Linked DNA regions of Homo sapiens. The protein of the gene in region 4 purifies or fractionates together with the protein of the main gene of each other region. This does not show direct contact. Each region holds a gene or a part of one and is shown on either strand. Other genes may lie near its edges.

Region 1 (4,816 bases), on a different chromosome or scaffold from region 4:
CACCTGCAGCTGGGGAGCACCGTAGACGCGGGCGAGGAAATCTCGGTCATAGGCCTCCCGCTGCAGGTAAGACAGGTCCAGCTGGGTGAAGTGCACAAACTGCTGGTTCAGCTTGATAAACTTGAGGTGCTGGTCAAAGAACTGCCCGTGGCTCACACCCTTGCGGCCAAAGGTCATCGTTCTTGAGATCTCAGGGCGTATGCAGGCCCGCCCCTGCCGCTGCTCCGGCCGCCGCATCCAGTCGTCCCAGAAGGCCTTTGGCCACTTGGGCTCCAGCTCAGCCCAGAGCTCGGCCAACAGCAGCCAGCCCAGGCCAGGGAAAAAGTCGGTGCGGTAGAGCAGCTCAGGCCTGCTGGCGTCCACCATCTGCTCCTTGCCGTTGTCATTCCAGGCCGAGACGCACCACAGGGAGGGGTCGGCCTTCAGCAGCGGATAGGTGGCCCGAAAGTACTCGAAGAAGTCCGGGGCCACCTCCAGGTCATCCTCCACCACCACGGCCGCGGGGAAGCGAAACTGCCGGAAGACCTGGCCCAGCGCCCAGCGGTAGTGGCGCGCGATCTTGTAGTAGCCCTGGAACTTGCGGTGGTCCGGCGGCACCGCAATGCTGCTCAGGTCGGGCTGCCGGATGTGCGTGACCGCGCTGCCGTAGGAGGCGATGGCCTGGGCCGTCTCCTCGTGCCCGCAGTCCTGGCTAACGATGATGGGGAAGAGCTCAGCCGAGGGCCGATAATGCAGCAGCTTGTCCAGGCAGCGCCGAACAGTGCTGCGGTCACAGGCGATGACCAGGATGGGAATCACCGCCGGCGCGGGGGTCACAGGCACACGCGGCTGGGCGGGAGGGGCCGCGGTGGGCACCCTCCCCCGCTGGCTCGACAGGGCATCCCCGATCTGCTGCAGCAGCCCACGCTGCCGCTCCAGCTCCACCTCGGCGTCTTGGGCCAGGCGAATCACTTCCCGGGTGAGGCTGGCGGGGTCGCCATCGAGAGCGCTGACTGAGGGTGGCCTGCCAGGTGCTGGGCGCGTCCAGAAGAAGAGGAGCAGCAGGGCATTCCAGGCCACAAAGAGGATAGCGCCCCACAGCACAAGCCCTGCAGACTGCTTCTTCAGCATCCTGGCCCCCACCGGGGAGGGCAGGCCAGGGGACGGTTCAAGGCTGCCCTGGGCTTGCCCGGCTCCCTTGCCCGCAGTCCTAGGGATGCCTCCTCTGGACTATGGGATTAGGAGGCAGCCATGCACCTAAAGACAGGAGAGAGAAAGCAAACCGTCACACAAAGGCTCGTGGCTCCATGCCCCACAGGTAGAGGAAATGGGGGCAGGAAAAGGCCAAGAGTGAGGGTGGAGGAAGGCCAGGAGGTTGACTCCAGAGCTCTCTAGGGAGTCAACATATATCCTGACCCAGGAACGTATTTTTGAGGGAGAGGCAGAGAGTGATGCTGGTGGAGGGAGAGAGAAAAAGAACCCCAACTCCCCTCTTTCTACCTGTCAGATTTCATTTCCCCTCCAGGTGGGAAGGAGGAGGGGAGGGGCAAGGAGTGACAGCATCTGCCTACCATTCCTCTAACCTAAGCGCCCCAAGATGACTGATTTTTAAAATCAAATGTCCCACCTCAGGGCTACAGTTAACCCCTTACCAACAGGGAAGCACCAGAGGCACCCCACGAATGTCAGGAGCAAAACGAAGTTGCCCATCATCTCCAGGGTTATTTAACATTTTGCTGGAGGAAGCAGCCAATGCAAATGAACCAAGAAAAAAAAATTCAAAGCAGAAGTGGAAAGGAAGCAAACTATTTCTATTATCTTTACTTGTGAGAATATGCCTGGAAAACTCAAAAAGAATCAATAATGAACTGAGCAAGGAAGTGTAATATAAAAATCAACATATACTAATGGATAGCCTTCATATCCACAAATAACTCATGAGAAGAAAACATGGATGAGAAAACCCTACTTACAAAAGCCAGAGAAATGAGAAAATATTTAGAAATAAACTTAAATAAACTTAAACATTCAAAACTTATGTGAACAAAACTATCATTCCTGAAAGACACAAAAGAACATCTGAATATCCCTTGTTCTTGGTCAGGACATTTCAGCATCATCAAAAATCCCAATAAAAATACCTTTTTATGGAGCTAGACGAACTGACAGTAAAGTTCACATGAAAAACTAGGAAAACAATAAAAATAAGCTGTGAGGAGGGACTCAGCCCTACCAGATATGAAAATACTGCATACTGGCCAGATGCAGTAGCTCCTACCTGCAATCCCAGCACTTTGGGAGGCCAATACAGGAGGATCACTTGAGCCCAGGAGTTCAAGAATAGCCTGGGCAGCACACGGAGACCCTGTCTCTACAAGTAACAATTAAAAAAAAAAAAAAAAAAAGCTGGGCATGGTGGCACGCACCTGTGGTCCCAGCTACTCAGGAGGCTGAGATGGGATCACCTGAGTCTGGGAGGCTGAGGCTGTAGTGAGCTGTGATTGGATTGTGCCATTGCACTCCAGCCTGGGCAAGAGAGTGAGACTCTGTCTCAAAAAAATTTTTTTTTATTATATATATATATATATGGCATACTACAAAACCTCCATAATTACAACTGCGTGGTACTGGTACATAAATAAACAGACCATCCAGTGAAATAGAATTTAAGCTCCAGAAACAGACTCATTACACAAAAAAATCTAATATGTAATAAAGGTGCTACTTAAAATTCCCAAGGCAAAGATGGTCTTATTAATAGTGTTATAATAATTACGTAGCTATGCTATAGCTTGAATATGGTTTGTTCTCTGAAACACATGTTGGGATTTGATCCCCTGTGTGGTGGTGCTGCCGGAGGTGGGGTCTAGTGGTAGGTGTTTGGATCACAAGGGGGGCAGGGGCAGATCCTTCCTAACGTCCTCTGGTGAGTGAGCTAGTTCCCCAGGGATAACAGGCTGTTATAACCAAGCCCAGTCTCTCCTGCATGCCCCATTTCTTTCTACTTTCAGCCATGTCCCTACAAAAACCTACACAGGAGTGTTGATGGTAACTTTATTCATAATCACTCAAAACTGGAAATAACCCAAAGGCCCATCAACAGGGAAATACAGATAAACAAATTGTGGTTTACTCATAGAATGGAATAATATTCAGCAATAAAACTGAATAAACCACTGACATACACAACACAATCTCCAAATAATTACACAATATGGGTCTTTTTGGGAAAAACAAAAAAGAGCACATACACTGTGATTCCATTGACATAAAACTGCCGAAAATAGAAACTAATCTATATTACAGAAAGCAGATCAGTTGTTGCCTGGGGATGGAGGCAGAGAAGGGCAGTAGGGTAGTTACTACACAGGGGCATTAGGAAGCTTCTAGAAGGGTGGATATGTTTATTATCTTGATTGTGGTGATACTTTTACAGGTATATATATATATATATATATACACACACACACATATATGTCAAAACTTATCAAATTGTACACTTTATATGCAGTTCTTTGCACATATTGATATCAATTGTATGTCAATGAAACCTCAAAAAACTTTTTTTAAAAAGACGTTATTGGGTAAAATGACAAAGGTGGAATATGGACAGTAGGTTAAAGTATCAGTGATAACTGATTAATTCCAATTCTTAGGTAATACACACTGAAGTATTGAGAAGTAGAGGACCAGGATAGATGCAACTTCTCAAATGGTTCAGAACAAAAACATACTCTGCACACATAGAGAGCAAATGGAGCAAAATATTAACAGGTGAATCTGAGTAAAGAGAGTGTGTACGAATATCCTTATACTATTTTTTATTCTTGCAATTTGTGTAAGTTTGAAGCTATTTCCACACGAAGTTTCTTGACAATCAAATATGTAGATATTGCCCATAGCTCTGAAGAGCTTCATCCATCAGCGTAATCCCAGCTGGCACATCAGCAAGGCAAATTGAGATGATCTGTTTGCCCTGAATTCCTCGGTCAGTCACCTGACGACGTGTATCACACACCTGCTCTCTGCCAGGCTCTGGGAAGGAACCAGGACACAAACCAGTGAGAAAAAGGCATGGTCCCACCAATCCTCCAAGCTCTACCAGACCACATTACTTGAAAGGATCTGAAACACTCCCCAATTCCCAGCCAGCTGCCACTCCAGACCATAACTCCTTGACTGTCCTGCCTCTGGTCTACCCTTTACACCCCAAAGCTTCAGGCGTGCACCCTCTTACACCAACAGCTCTGCCAGTTGCCCTCTGCCTCACAGGCTACTCTCTAATCCTGGCCAAAACCTTGGGCCTCAGATCTAACCTCTGAGGCTCTGGGCTCTCAAACCAGCAGATCTGGTATAAAAGGGCTGATCCTGAAGGGCCTCTAAAGAGACATGGATTCTGTCTCCCTCCTGGGGAGACTTCACCAGCCCCTGCCAGCATTCACCACCAACCACTTGTCTTCTTCCTAGAAACCAACCACCCCCACCACGCCAGGACATCAGTCTTCTCAGAAACGTCAAGTCTGTTTCCATGTAACTGTGCAATTAAATTCTATTATATCAGGGCTCAAATATTATGTATCAATTAGATACATGTTGTCAAGTGACCGAGAAATTCAGGGCAAACGTCGTTTCAGTTGGCCTTACTGCTGTGCCCAGCTGGGGCCATACAGATGGATGAAGCTACTCAGAGCTGTGGGCCATATCCCCATATTTGATTTTTAAGAAAGTTTATGTGGAAGAAAAGAGTGATGCACAAAAGAGTTTCAGTTTTTTTTCTTTTTTTTTGAGACAGAGTCTCACTCTGTCTGTTGCCCAGGCTGGAGTACAGTGGCATGAT
Region 2 (4,816 bases), on a different chromosome or scaffold from region 4:
CATTTTGATAAAAGGAAACTTTCAATTATCTGTGCTAAAGCCCATATACTGAGGAGGGGAAAACACTGTATAATCACCTACCATTTCTGGTCTGTTTCTTGTAATTTTCAATCTGTTCTTTGGCCTTAACAAGCTGCTCTTCTAAAACGCGTACTCTTCCTATAGCTGGCCCCTGATCAATAGGGCCTTCTGGTATCCTGTAGTTTAGGGAAGATAATGTAAACATTTAGCTTTCAAACTGTGCAACAAAATACAAGCTCACTTTCTAAAACATTTATACTGTAAACTCCATAAGTTGTTGAACCATATAGCACAAAAGTAGTACCAAATGGAATTTTCTCTTCAAAGGTATAGGATTAACCAGTGAAATGGACAATGAAATGATAATAACGAAAAATAGAAAATATTAATCTACTTCAGAAATCTATGATCTTCTAGGAGTTAACAAACCTCTAGAGCTGTTTCCTAAAAATCTTTCATCCCCAGAGTACCATGATCAGTGGCAAAGAGGTCAATTATTCATTAGCATTGAGAGTAACAAAAGTGAAGGAAAAAGTAAAGAAAAGGCTTAAAGGGAATAACGAAGCATATCTGAACATGTGTCTAAGGACATGCTCAAACATCAAATATAATGTATTTCTAAATTAATTATAATATCAGACTATGTAAATCTGTCTTTCAATTCATGACATTAGACTACTAAGCATTGGTCTTATATAGAAAAAAGAAAGACAAGAGTAGAAGATAAAACATATTAGAAAAAAATTGGGCCAGGTGTAGCCACTCATGCCTATAATCCCAGCACTTTGGGAGGCCCAGGTAGGAGGATTACTTGAGCCCAGGAGTTCATGGCCAGCCTGGGCAACACAGCAATCCCCCATCATTACAAAAATGAAAACATTAGCTGGGCACATGGTGGTGTGTGCCTGCAGTCCCAGCTACTCAGGAAGCTAAGGAAGGAGGATGGCTTGAACCATCCTTGAACCATAGTTCAAGATTACAATGAACTATGATCATGTCACTGCATTCTAGTGTAGGCAGCAGAGTGAAACCCTGTCTCGAAAAAATAAAAATAAAAAATTGAAGATCATTGTTCTATTCATTTCTATCAGCAACAAAAACAATCAGTCAATAATATAAAAGCTGGAACACAGAACAGCAATCCAAGATCTCTTACTTATATTATCAACCTCTCTGTTCAACTTAATTCCAAACTGTGCTTGTTCCTGTTTTGTTTTTATGTGACTTATGGCAGTATACTGTACTCCACTTTGATGTACATAATACAATTTCGTGGTAGGCTAAACAAAGGTCTCCCAAAGATATCCATAACCTAATCATGAAATCTGTGAATATTACTCTTTATGGCAAAAGAAACTCTGAATATATAATTAAGGATTTTGAGATTGGATTATCTAGGTGAGCCATTTTGTAATAACAAGTGTCTTCATAAGAGGAAGGTAGAAGAAGATTTTACTACAGAAGAGGAAAAGGTTATGTGGCTGTTAGCTTTGAAGATGGAAGAAGCAACCATGAGCAAGGAAGACATTTTTAGAAACTGGAAAAGGCAAACGAACGAACAAACAAAAATACCCCAGATGCTCTCCTAGAGCTTCTCTAGGGAATCCAGCCCTCCTGACATCTTGGTTTCAGTGCAGTGAAACTCAATTCAGATCTCTGGCCTCCAAAACTCTTAAGAGAATAAATTTATGTTGTTTTAAGCCATAAAGTTTGTGGTATTTGTCAAAGCAGCAATAGGAAATTAATACGTACATATATTGATCCTTTTACAAAATTGTCCTAAAGATTAAATAGCTGATTTTTCTTTCAAAGTCTATTTAAATGAGGAAATGTCTGTAAAAGTACTTAGCAGTGTCTGGCAATAAATTTTATGAAGGCTACTATTATATCTGAGCTTTGTCATTTTAGAGATGAGCTGTAATCTCAAAAAGTCTGGGCTATCTATTCTTACCATCATGACCAGTTTAAGGGAACTTAAGTTTTAAATTATAGTTGGCAGAACTTAAATTCAGATGTCAACACAGTCTTTTTTTTTTTTTTTTGACACAGTCTCGATTTGTCACCCAGGCTGGAGTACAGTGATGGGATCTTGGCTTGCCACAACCACTGCCTCCCAGATTCAAATGATTCTCGTGCCTCGGCCTCCTGAGCAGATGGGATTACGGGAATGCACCACCATCCCTGGCTAATTTTTTTACATTTTTAGTAGAGACGGGGTTTCATTGGGTTGGCCAGGCTGGTCTAAAACTCCTGGCCTCAAGTGATCCGCCCACCTCAACCTCCCAAAGTGCTGAATTACAGGTATGAGCCACGGCGCCCAGCCAACATAGCCTTTTGAGGCAAACACTCTGATACGAAAGGTTTTTTATAGCTTCTCTAACATTTTCTATATAACCTGATAAAGCCAAATTAACTGTCAATTACCTACACTACTTCAGAACACGTTTAATAAAGTAGCTATTGTTACAGCTATACCAAAGTAATTGGAGACATTTTATAATTTCCTGTAAAATTGTACGCATTAACATTGAACAGGAGCATAAAAAGTAACTATCCTCCAATCATGAGTGTCCAAGGCTACAGAATATGAATGAAAAAGCCTTCATTTGTATAAGCACAAAGCGAATAATAAAAAATGAATACAGTAGTTAGGTGCACAATTACCCAATTTATGAGCACGCATACATTCACAAATGAGGCATGTCCTGGTATATAGTTTTTTAAAGTTATGTTTCTAAGACTTGGCTCTTAATCTCTTTGTGAATTAGGTGGCTGGTTTCTAGGAAACAATTTGAAAATAGAATAAAACTTCAATCTCTTGGGATTTATTTTGGCAGCAATATACTATAGGACAGGAATGTCCTTTTTCAGAACATATGTTAGTGATAGAAAAATTGACAATAGAAAGATTATGTCTAGGTTCTCCTTTTTATCTCTTTCTTCAAATATTGGTGGAATAAACATCAGAGGCAAAACAGCCATGAAAAAAATAGCATGTGATCTTTTCAGTAGCTTTCCACAAAGAGTTCCAATCTAATTCTAATAAAACATAATGGAATTAGTAATCCATATTGCCTAATAATCTAATCCAACTGTGAAAAAAAAAACTGGAAAAGAAAATTACTGGAAAAATCACTCTAAAAAAAAAATACAGGAGAACTATTCTTTCCAAACTCCATCCAGAAAAGAGTCAATATGCACGAACAGTCTCTTTTCTGAATACTTAGGGAACAGAATGCTTTCTTACATTCACCATGCCAAAGATACAGATATATAAGACTTCCACTTCTAGCCAAGACATTTACCATCCTGCCTGAAACAACTCAAAATCCAGGTTAGATGTATTAAACAATGATCTAATAAAATTGCAATCAGGCAACAAAGGGCAGTGATCACCAGAGAAGGAAAACAAATGATGATAGCCCTGTGACTGTCCCAGCTTACTGCATTCAGAGAGTTTCCAGACCACAGTGTATGGAGGGGAAATGCAGATGGAGCCAGTACATTCACTGAGTTGAAGAAATGGAGCTAAGAGTCTAAAAAGACCAAGACAGAGTTTGAATAAGAGAGAACTGTAGAGGACAGAGAATTCCAGAAATCTGCAAAGGTACCATTTTGGAATTAGCAGAGTACTCATCAGCACACACACATAAGGAACTACTCAGGCTGGGGAAAGAACTCTCTAAAAGGATTAGAGGAAGTAGTACCTGGCATTCATACAGATTAGGTAGAAACAGTTCCTGATCCTATCAGCCAGACTAGAAAACCGTAATTCATGGGATGCTGGGTAAAATGCTCAGAAGGATTTGGCCTCAATAGCAGGAAAATGTGCCCCAGACCAAACATTGCTTAGGTCCCACTTAACAATTATTAAAAGACAAAATAGGATCAAATTATTTTAAAATAACATAACTACATCCCAGAACAAAATTTAAGAATATTTGTAAATTATACAAGACCTTCTAGTAACAAACAAGGTAAAATTCATGTCTGGAATCCACAAAAGTTACCAGGCTTGCAAAAAAACAAGAAAAGACAACCCATAAAGAAGAGTGAAATCAATCTATCAAAACCAACTCAAAACTGACACAGATGTTAGAATCACCATAGAAATAACAGTTATTATGACTGTATTTCATATGTTCAAAAGTTAGAGACAGGGAAGATATAAAAAAGATGTTAAAATTTTAATAGGCCAGGTGCGGTGGCTCACGCCTGTAATCCCAGCACTTTGGGAGGCTGAGGCAGGCAGATCACCTGAGGTCAGGAGTTCAAGACCAGCCTGGCCAACATGGTGAAATACTGTCTCTATGAAAAATACAAAAATTAGCCAGGCATGGTGGCAGACGTCTGTAATCCCAGCTACTCAGGAGGCTGAGGCAGGAGAACTGCTTGAACCCAAGAGGCAGAGGTTGCAGTGAGTCGAGATCACGCCTTTGAACTCCAGCCGGGGTGGCAGAGTGAGACTCCATCTCAGAAAAAAGAAAGAAAGAAAGAAAAAATTTTAATAGATACCCAAGTTGAACTACTACAGATGAAAACTATAATGTCTGAAATGAAAAATATAAAGAATGAGATTTACTGCAGATTATATATTGTAGCGTCTACCCTAAGAAACTAAGAAAAAAAGAGCAAATGAAACTCCAATTAAGTGGAAGAAACGAAGTAATAAAGATCAGAGAGACGATCAATGAAATGGAGAAAAAGAAAAATAGATAAAAACCAATGAAAACTAAAATCTGGTTCTTTAAAAAAAAAAGAAAGAAAATCAATTAAACTGGCAGACTTTTTCCTA
Region 3 (4,816 bases), on a different chromosome or scaffold from region 4:
CTTTGTGAGGTTATGTTTATTGATCTTTTTTGAAGGATTAAATAACGTTCTCTTTCTTGTCTACTCTTTAGAGTATAACTATCCAAACCGTAATTAAAATATTTATCAACATGAGACTAACTGGTTAAATTATGATTCATCCACATAATGGACTACTATGTACCTACTAAAAAGAATAAGGAGAATCTGTATGTAGTAACATGGGAGGAGATGCTACATATACTGTTATGTTTTTAAAAAGCAAGGTATAAAATAAGCATGTGTAGCACCTTCCTATTTCATTAAAAAATAGTAAGCTGGGAGCAGTGGCACGTCTGTAGTCCTAGCTACTCAGGAGCTGAGGTGGGAAGGTTGCTTGAGCTCAGGAGTTCAAGTCCAGCCTGGGCAACAGAGCAAGTCCCCATGTCAAATAAAAAAAAAACAAAAACAAAACAAAAGACAAAAACAGGCTGGGCAAGCTGACTCATGCCTGTAATCCCAGCACTATGGGAGGCCAAGGCAGGAAGACTGCTTGAGCCCAGGAGTTCGAGATCAGCCTGGCCAACAGAGCAAGATCCCATCTCTACCAAAACAAACAAACAAACAAAAAAACCCCCCTAAACAATTAGTTGGGCATGGTGGCCAGCACCTGTGGTCCCAGCTACTCAGGAGGCTGAGGCTGGAGGACTGCTTAAGCCCAGGAGGTCGGGGCTGCAGTGAGCCATGACTGCAACACTGCACTCCAGCTGAGGCAACAGAACGAGATCCTGTCTCAAAAAAAGAAAAGGAAGACATGGTGAATATTAAAAAAAATAATTTTGGAATTACATATTTACTGATTTAATTATCATCAGAGATCTCTGTATGACACAAAATCCCAAAAGCTAAAGACTGTCAAACCTGACAATAATTATAAATGAGTAAATACATAGAAAGTAATTAAAACACTGATATTAAATGTACTCAAAAATTTATTAGCGGCCAGGTATGGTGGCTCACGTATGTAATCCCAGCACTTTGGGAGGCTGAGGCAGGCAGATCACTTGAGGCCAGGAGTTCAAGACCAGCCTGGCAAAACCCGGTCTCTACTAAAAATACAAAAATTTGCGGGGTGTGGTGGCGGGCGCCTGTAATCCCAGCTACTCGGGAGGCTGAGGCAGAATCGCTTGAACCCGGAAAGCAGAGGTTGCAGTGTGCCGAGACCACGCCACTGTACTCCAGCCTGGGAGACAGAGCAAAACTGTCTCAAAAAAAAAAAAAAAAGAAAAAGAAAATATTATTAGTTACTATTACAGATTTGTTACCTGAAAATGTAAAAACACTTCTGTGTTGCAAAAATTTCTACACTGCCAAAAGACAATATATAGAGAAAGAAATACACATAGCCAGGTGCAGTGGCTCACGCCTGTAATCTCAGCATTTTGGGAGGCCCAGAGGGTGGATCGCTTGAACCCAGGTGTTTGAGAGCAGCCTAGGCAACACGGTGAAACTATGTCTTTACAAAAAATACAAAAATTAACTGGGCATGGTGTCATGCACCTGTAATCTTGGCTACTAGGGAGGCTTGGGTGGGAGGACAGCTTGAACCCAGGAGACCAAGGCTGCAGTGAGTCAAGATCATGCCACTGTACTCCAGCCTGGGCAACAGAGCAAGACTTTGTCTCGGGCGGGGGGAAGAAAGAAAAGAAATACACACAATTAATAGATATTAAAAAAACTACTCAACTTTACAAAGAAATATAAAATTGAAATGATGAGGTAACATTTTTCAATTACCCTATCAACAAAAATGTTTCACTTTGATAAATTCCATTACAGAGAAACATGGAAAACTGAAACATGGAAACTGATGAAGAAACAACTGGTGCAACTTTTTGGAGAAGAGTTTGGCAATATCTACCCAAAGTTTAAAAGCATGTGCTATTTGGCTTATTAATGCCACTTCCAGAAATTTATTTTCCAGATATGTTACATAAATATGCAAACAATATGGGGGAAAATTAAACACAGCAGTATGTACAATAGCAAAAAACTTGGAAAGAACCCAAGTACCAGCAATAGGGGACTGGTTAAAAAAACACAGGCACTCCAAGTCAATCCTAAGCCAAAAGAACAAAGCTGGAGGCATCACGCTACCTGACTTCAAACTATACTACAAGGCTACAGTAACCAAAACAGCATGGTACTGGTACCAAAACAGAGATATAGACTAATGGAACAGAACAGAGCCCTCAGAAATAATGCCGCATATCTACAACTATCTGATCTTTGACAAACTTGACGAAAACAAGAAATGGGGAAAGGATTCCCTATTTAATAAATGGTGCTGGGAAACTGGCTAGCCATATGTAGAAAGCTGAAACTGGATCCCTTCCTTACACCTTATACAAAAATTAATTCAAGATGGATTAAAGACCTAAATGTTAGACCTAAAACCATAAAAACCCCAGAAGAAAACCTAGGCAATACCATTCAGGATATAGGCATGGGCAAGGACTTCATGTCTAAAACACCAAAGGCAATGGCAACAAAAGCCAAAATTGACAAATGGGATCTAATTAAACTAAAGAGCTCTGCACAGCAAAAGAAACTACCATCAGAGTGAACAGGCAACCTACAGAATGGGAAAAAATTTTTGCAATATACTCATGTGACAAAGGGCTAATATCCAGAATCTACAATGAACTCAAACAAATTTACAAGAAAAAAACAAACAACCCCATCAAAAAGTGGGCAAAGGATATGAACAGACACTTCTCAAAAGAAGACATTTATGCAGCCAAAAGACACATGAAAAAATATTCATATCACTGGCCATCAGAGAAATGCAAATCAAAACCACAATGAGATACCATCTCACACCAGTTAGAATGGTGATCATTAAAAAGTCAGGAAACAACAGGTGCTGGAGAGGATGTGGAGAAATAGGAACACTTTTACACTGTTGGTGGGACTGTAAACTAGTTCAATCATTGTGGAAGTCAGTGTGGCGATTCCTCAGGGATCTAGAACTAGAAATACCATTTGACCCAGCAATCCCATTACTGGGTATATACCCAAAGGATTATAAATCATGCTGCTATAAAGACACATGCACACATATGTTTACTGTGGCACTATTCACAATAGCAAAGACTTGGACAAGCCAAATGTCCAACAGTGATAGACTGGATTAAGAAAATGTGGCACATACACACCATGGAATACTATGCAGCCATAAAAAATGATGAGTTCATGTCCTTTGTAGGGACATGGATGAAGCTGGAAACCATCATTCTTAGCAAACTATCGCAAGGACAAAAAACCAAACACTGCATGTTCTCAGTCATAGGTGGGAATTGAACAATGAGAACACATGGACACAGGAAGGGGAACATCACACACTGGGGCCTGTTGTGGGGTGGGTGGAGGGGGGAGGGATAGCATTAGGAGATATACCTAATGTTAAATAATGAGTTAATGGGTGCAGCACACCAACACGGCACATGTATACATAACTAACCTGCATGTTGTGCACATGTACCCTAAAACTTAAAGTATAATTAAAAAAAAAAAAAAAAAAACAGGCACTCAGCACCATAAGAGAGGGGAAAAAATATATGTGTCTAGCTTTTTAATATGTATATAAAATATAATGTATAAGAAAGAAAATCCACATAGCTTTCCATAACAGCATATATCCCTTTCTTTTTAATGGCCACATTATATATTTCACTGGATGGATATACCCATCCATCTGCTTCCCAGCTGGGGCAACAGAGCAAGACTTCCACTCTAAAAAAAAATTCAAAAATTTAAAAAAGAACTCTTTAATCTGACACATATCTCCTAATAGTCTCCTTGTCACCAGTTTATAGTTTTCACTCCAAACAAGCTAATTCTATCTTTATCCATTTTTTTTTTCCTTTGGAGACGGAGTCTCACACTGCCACCCAGGCTGCAGTGCAGTGGCATGGTCTTGGCTCACTGCAACCTCTGCCTCCTAGGTTGAAGTGATTCTTCTGCCTCAGCCTCTTGAGTAGCTGGGATTACAGGCACGTACCACCACGCCCGGCTAATTTCTGTAGCCTCCCAAAGTGCTGGGATTACAGGTGTGAGCCACTGCATCTGGACGTATCTTTATCCTTTTACATAAAGTATCCTATAGTGCTGAAATATTCATAGTTTTATTAATTTTTTCTGGTGGTTTGCTACCTTAGGAAGATTTTCTTTCCCACCTACCCCCTCGTTTTTCCTACCGTAATTCAGCCTTTTCAGCTTCAATCTGAAGGACGGCCATTGTTCTTTCATATATCTTTTCAGGACTATCATAGAAATTACGGGCAATCCATCTTGATATGGGATGCTACAAGAGAAAATTCGTTTAATATTAGTCCATTTCTGAATAATACTTTGCTTTTCTAGTTGACTATTCTTTAAAATGATCATTTCAGTTAGATAAACCAGTAACATCTACTATGTAACTAATATACCTATATATAAAATAATTTTAACAGATGAGGTGGATACTATTTTTGTCCGCATTTTAAAGATAAGTGAATTGCACAAAGTTACGTAGCTAATAAATGGCAGCACCTGGACTCAAACCAGGTCTGTCTGACTCCAAAGCTGTGTACTCTTTTCCATTACACTATGCTGAGTATCTTAGGTGGCAGATTCAGAAGACAAACCCAGGTTTTGGTAATTCAAAAATGGAGCTCTTTGCACCAGTTAGCATAAACAAACTAAGTGTAAGGTCTGCCTTAAGATTTAATGGTTTAAGATTTGTATTTAAAATATAATTCATTCAGATAATAAAACATGATGGGATATACTCCATTCAAGGCTCACAATAACA
Region 4 (4,816 bases):
TATCCAAAACCCGCTGGGCTGGATGTGTTTCAGAATTCATAATCTTTGGGGTTTTAAAAAGGCAATATGGGCATATTTTGAATATTACAAAACACCTCCACAGCATCTAAGGGAAAACCTATAATCAAATCCATGGATATTTCTTCAGGGAAAATTAAGTCACAATGAAGTAGCATAAATATAAAGTACAATACTCTCACATCAGTTCAAGTCAGATTTTGCTGCCAAATGAATTACGGTATCAAATTTAGAAAAACACAAACCAACTTAGATTTCGAAGTTTCTTTGCTAAGGGACTGTAGCCCTTTAACATCTCTGACAAGGAAATTTCTTCTCTGACATGATGGTCTCTGCAAATCTGCTCTCATATTTCAGTGGAAATTGGGATAGGGACAATTGTCTTCTACCGCAAAACAGGGGCTCTCAACAGGTGCTCTTAAATTTATTCGGGTAGTAGATTACCATCTCACTGGAGGCAACAGGTTCTATGAGGATAATTTGAAAAAATATATTGAAATAACTATTTAATGTTATTAAATCAGACACTTTCTTGGACTAGATTCTAATATAGATCAGCAGTAGAAGGTGCCAACATTCGAGGAACATTTATGAGAAAAGAATAAAACTGAGAAACATCCAGACATTAATGCAATTGTTTTCTGCAAATTATAAAAAGCTATGATTCCATTTTAGCAGCTGCACAACGCAACTCGATATAATCTGCAAACTTTGGCTCTGTAAGACTGAAAGATTTATGAAACCATTCTGGCATCAACCCATCCTTACAAGCTGCAATGAAATCATTCCAAGCAATTTATATATTAAATAATAATTTCTTCTGTATCTATCAGTGTTTAAAATATGCTATTCTCAGATCTTAATAAAAACATGGGTTAAAGCCATAAAACATCTTATTTTTTAAAAAGTTAAGTCATTTAAAGTCAAGAGCTTCAAAAACTCAAGAGCAAAAAAAAGGTATGCTATAATTTTTAGGTCTTCAATTTTTGTATAGAGTTTTTATGTTTTTTAAGTTTTATTTTACAATTTAAGAAAGTTTCCTCTTCAAAAACAGAGGTCTTTTCTCACCGAAGTGATCTGGAATGTGCTACCGTATATGCAAGGAAGACAGGTTACAAGATCAAGGTGAAGGCAGCTCTCCTCAAGTCAGAGGAGTGTGAACAATGAGCAGGATGCAACGGGGAATGTTGGCTAAAACTCATCAGAGGCACTTGCTGTCAAAATCCACTAATGAACACAGATCCTATAACCTGGAAACAACATTCAGGGGCCAAGAGGGTTTCCAGGGCTACAGAGTTAGATGAGTGGGCTTCCTTAGCATGTGGTATAAAAATAATGTCTGCAGGTTCAGTGGGAGAGTCACATAAAGAACAGGTGATCATTTTATTTCAAAAGCAACTCTCTTCAAAATCAGCCTTGTCTTTTTTTCTTAATGAGCAAACTTTATACCATCATCAGCCTTTCCTAAAAGCTACATATATGCTCCGAGAAAAAGTCACACTTTTTAATTTTTTCATTTGCTTTAATTAATTCATGAGTTAAGTTAAAAAGTCAAGTCGAAAATTTTAGCTGGTCTTTTTTTTCCTTTTTTTTTTTTTTTACAAAAATATTACAGCAGTATAAGCAAAATTGGAAAGGAAGAGATGGGAAAAACAAGTAGATGCTAAAATGGGATAGGTGAACTTCAGGTCATCATGGTTATTGAAGGAACTGTAAATTCTTAAGCTTCTAGATTTTACCGCTCTTCAGAAAACATTTAAGGAGGCTGCCTTTCCCCATGAATGAGAAATGAAACGTTCCCTAAGCATTTGAGTCTAAAGACAAGAAAGCATTGCTTTTCCTACTGGAAAATATCTCTTTACTTCCCATTGCACTGCCCTCTCCCGTCCCCCTCGTAGCTTTATGGGATCAAAGAGAGAGAGAAGCCATGAGTTTCCACCAGCAGCAGAGTGAGTCCTGAGCACAACACAGGGCTGTCAGTGACATTCAGACTCACTGGCAATGGGTCCAACTCATCTTGAATAAAATACACAAAGAAAGAAAGAGAGAGAGAGAGAGAGACAGAGAGACAGAGAGACAGAGAGACAGAGAGACAGAGAGACAGAGAGAGAGAGAGAGAGAACCCGAGAAACCGAAAATTGTTTTTTTATGGAAGGTTTAAACAAAGTCCTCAAGATTTCTTTATGTGCCAGAAAGTACATTTCTGGACTTAATCTCTAGGGGGGCAAAAAAGAATAAATAGAAACAAATTTAATGATCATTCTGGAATCCTGTTCTTTACTTTGTTCACACGCTATTAATTCTCATACCTTCACCTCTCTACCACAAAGCCTAGAAAATCAAATGGTCTCCTATTCCATATTTGCATAGTATTAATAATACTGTCAGGAGGTGAACTTCTAGCCCCTTGCTTGCAGCCACATTCCTGAAGAGCACTGGTCCAATCTGACGTATTCGAAAACAATACATAAGTGTCTATAGGCCAAAAATTGGGTCCCATTTAGCAGCAAGCTGTTCAAATTATTTGGAAACAGTCTTCTTCCAAGGGGTAAGAAGATTAGGCAGTTTTGTCTGCATTTTCAGATTTTTCTCTCTGCATCATGCAGCGACGAACTATGCTGTCAAAACTTCCAAGGTAAAACAAAGCAATAGTGCGGAAAAGGCCCATGGTGACCACCTGCAAGATAAAGAGAGAGCTTTTAGTGCATCCAACGGTACAAGACTATTTCAAGGTACCTAGGTCTCTAACAAACAGTTTCTAAGACAAATCTTCTAGTCTGCTCTAAGGATGAATATAATGAAAACTCTGTAAATGTCAGTAAGCTGTGAGAACAGAATGTGTGTGCTCTGCACCGCTGGACAGCCCAGATACATAACAAAATATTTGTCCAATTAATAAATTCAAACCATAAGCAGAATAAAATATATATTGCTTGCAGTCTTAGGGTTATAATAGCTTTAAAAAGACCCACTGCAGCATCTCAAATAGCCAAACTACAATCAAGGCTTTTTTGGTTTGCAATTTATGTTCTGAGCATGAAAGCGAGACCCTATACTAGGTGCTGTGAACACTGTGGTGAGAGACACAGTCCCTGCCCTCAATGAGCTTATTCTCAGGCTGGAAAGACAAGTAAAATTGAAACTACTGCCTCAGGGTTGAGACCCGTGATTACTGATATCCTGTTGCTCAGGATGGAGTGCAGTGGCATGAACGCGGCTCACTATAGCTTTGACCTCCCAAACTCAAAGGATTCTCCTGCCTCATCCTCCCAAGCAGCTGGGACCATAGGCATGAGTCCCCGTGCATAAGAGAATGGAAAAATCAGGCCGGGCGCGGTGGCTCACGCCTGTAATCCCAGCACTTTGGGAGGCCGAGGCGGGTGGATCACGAGGTCAGGAGATTGAGACCATCCTGGCTAACACGGTGAAACCCCATCTCTACTAAAAATACAAAAAAATTATCCGCGTGTGGCGGTGTGCGCCTGTAGTCCAAGCTGCTGGGGAGGCTGAGGCAGGAGAATGGTGTGAACCCAGGAGGCAGAGCGTGCAGTGAGCTGAGATCGTGCCACTGCACTTCAGCCTGGGTGACAGAGCAAGACTCCGTCTCAAAAAAAAAAAAAAAAAAAAAAGAGAATAGAAAAATCCCTTTGTTTTTTTCCCTACACCCTCAGAGCACTGAAGCCAGTCCTTGGATCTTCCGGAAAAAACAATATTTAAGGTGAGACCTGAAGGATTAGAAGTTGGCAGGACACAGAGAAGATTCCAAAAAGAAGAAGATGGGTAAAGAAAGAAAGAAAAAAAAGAGCCTGGAAAGGTACGTGGGGTAGGAGATCAGGTGGTTTATGGCATGCGATGGAAATTTTTTTAATTTTTAAATCCTTTTTAGAGACAGGGTCTTGCTCTGTCACCCAGGCTGGAGTGCAGGAGTATGATCACAGCTCACTGTAGCTTCAGACTTCTGGACTCAAGCAGAAGTCTCCCAGTTGCTAGGAATACAGGTACACACCACCACGCCTGGCTTTCTTTTCTTTTACATTTTTTTGTAGAGACAGGGTCTCACTATGTTGCCCAGGCTGATCTCAAACTCCTGAGCTCAAGCGATCCTCCTGACTTGGCCTCCCAAAGTGCTGAGATTATAGGCATGAGCCACCATACTCAGGTGCAATGGAATTTTTAAAGCTTTATCCTGATGGTATCAAGGAGTCATTGAATGTTTTCATGCAATGTATAGTTGCAGTTTAGAAACAACTGGTGTGGAAAATGTGAGGGTACACTCAAACGCATCCAGGGGGCCTGAGCAGGGGGTTGCAGACCATAGTGGTTGCAGGGACTGTGCTCCTCCCTCAGGAGCAGCTGCCACCTGTGCTTGCTGATGACTGCCAGGTAAGAATGCAGACTCTGTGCAGCTAAACCTTCTGATTTTCCAAGAAAAGTCTGAAATCTGGACCTTTTATATAAAACCTAATTTTAAAACTATTTTAAAATCTTAAACACACACACTCACACCAGATGGACCCAACAAAACTGCTTTACAGGCCCATGGGAATCGTTTACAACCTCTGGCTCAAAAAGTGTGTAACTCAAGCAGGGGGCCTGCTGCGGCAACCCAGGCCTGGGCTCCAGAAGCACTGCCAGAATTGCAGAGAATGGAAGAATGTGAAGAACTGAGTGACAAGGATGACAATGATCTCTGACGTGAGGGACAGAAGCAGGGGAGTCCAGGACAACACGCCAGGTGTGAGCCACCATGCCAGCCCAAAAATTAAAACATAAAAGAATTCATGCATTTGTTCAGCTC

The links. Proteins that work in one complex are often made in the same cells at the same time.
Region 1: the proteins of KDSR (region 4) and MGAT1 purify together in Homo sapiens (affinity purification with mass spectrometry; one large-scale study listed by BioGRID and IntAct). This does not show direct contact.
Region 2: the proteins of KDSR (region 4) and FUT8 purify together in Homo sapiens (affinity purification with mass spectrometry; one large-scale study listed by BioGRID and IntAct). This does not show direct contact.
Region 3: the proteins of KDSR (region 4) and NDUFB5 purify together in Homo sapiens (affinity purification with mass spectrometry; one large-scale study listed by BioGRID and IntAct). This does not show direct contact.

The regions. Positions count from the first base shown.
Region 1 is NC_000005.10:180,791,862-180,796,677, forward strand, and holds part of MGAT1 (alpha-1,3-mannosyl-glycoprotein 2-beta-N-acetylglucosaminyltransferase), read right to left. Parts: intron 4,015-4,816; exon of another isoform or gene 3,020-4,014; intron 2,506-3,019; exon of another isoform or gene 2,406-2,505; intron 1,237-2,405; 5' UTR 1,111-1,236; coding exon 1-1,110. UniProt on the Homo sapiens protein: Initiates complex N-linked carbohydrate formation. Essential for the conversion of high-mannose to hybrid and complex N-glycans.
Region 2 is NC_000014.9:65,611,359-65,616,174, reverse strand, and holds part of FUT8 (alpha-(1,6)-fucosyltransferase), read right to left. Parts: intron 198-4,816; coding exon 82-197; intron 1-81. UniProt on the Homo sapiens protein: Catalyzes the addition of fucose in alpha 1-6 linkage to the first GlcNAc residue, next to the peptide chains in N-glycans.
Region 3 is NC_000003.12:179,617,923-179,622,738, reverse strand, and holds part of NDUFB5 (NADH dehydrogenase [ubiquinone] 1 beta subcomplex subunit 5, mitochondrial isoform 1 precursor), read right to left. Parts: intron 4,325-4,816; coding exon 4,218-4,324; intron 1-4,217.
Region 4 is NC_000018.10:63,329,207-63,334,022, forward strand, and holds part of KDSR (3-ketodihydrosphingosine reductase), read right to left. Parts: intron 2,696-4,816; coding exon 2,576-2,695; 3' UTR 1-2,575.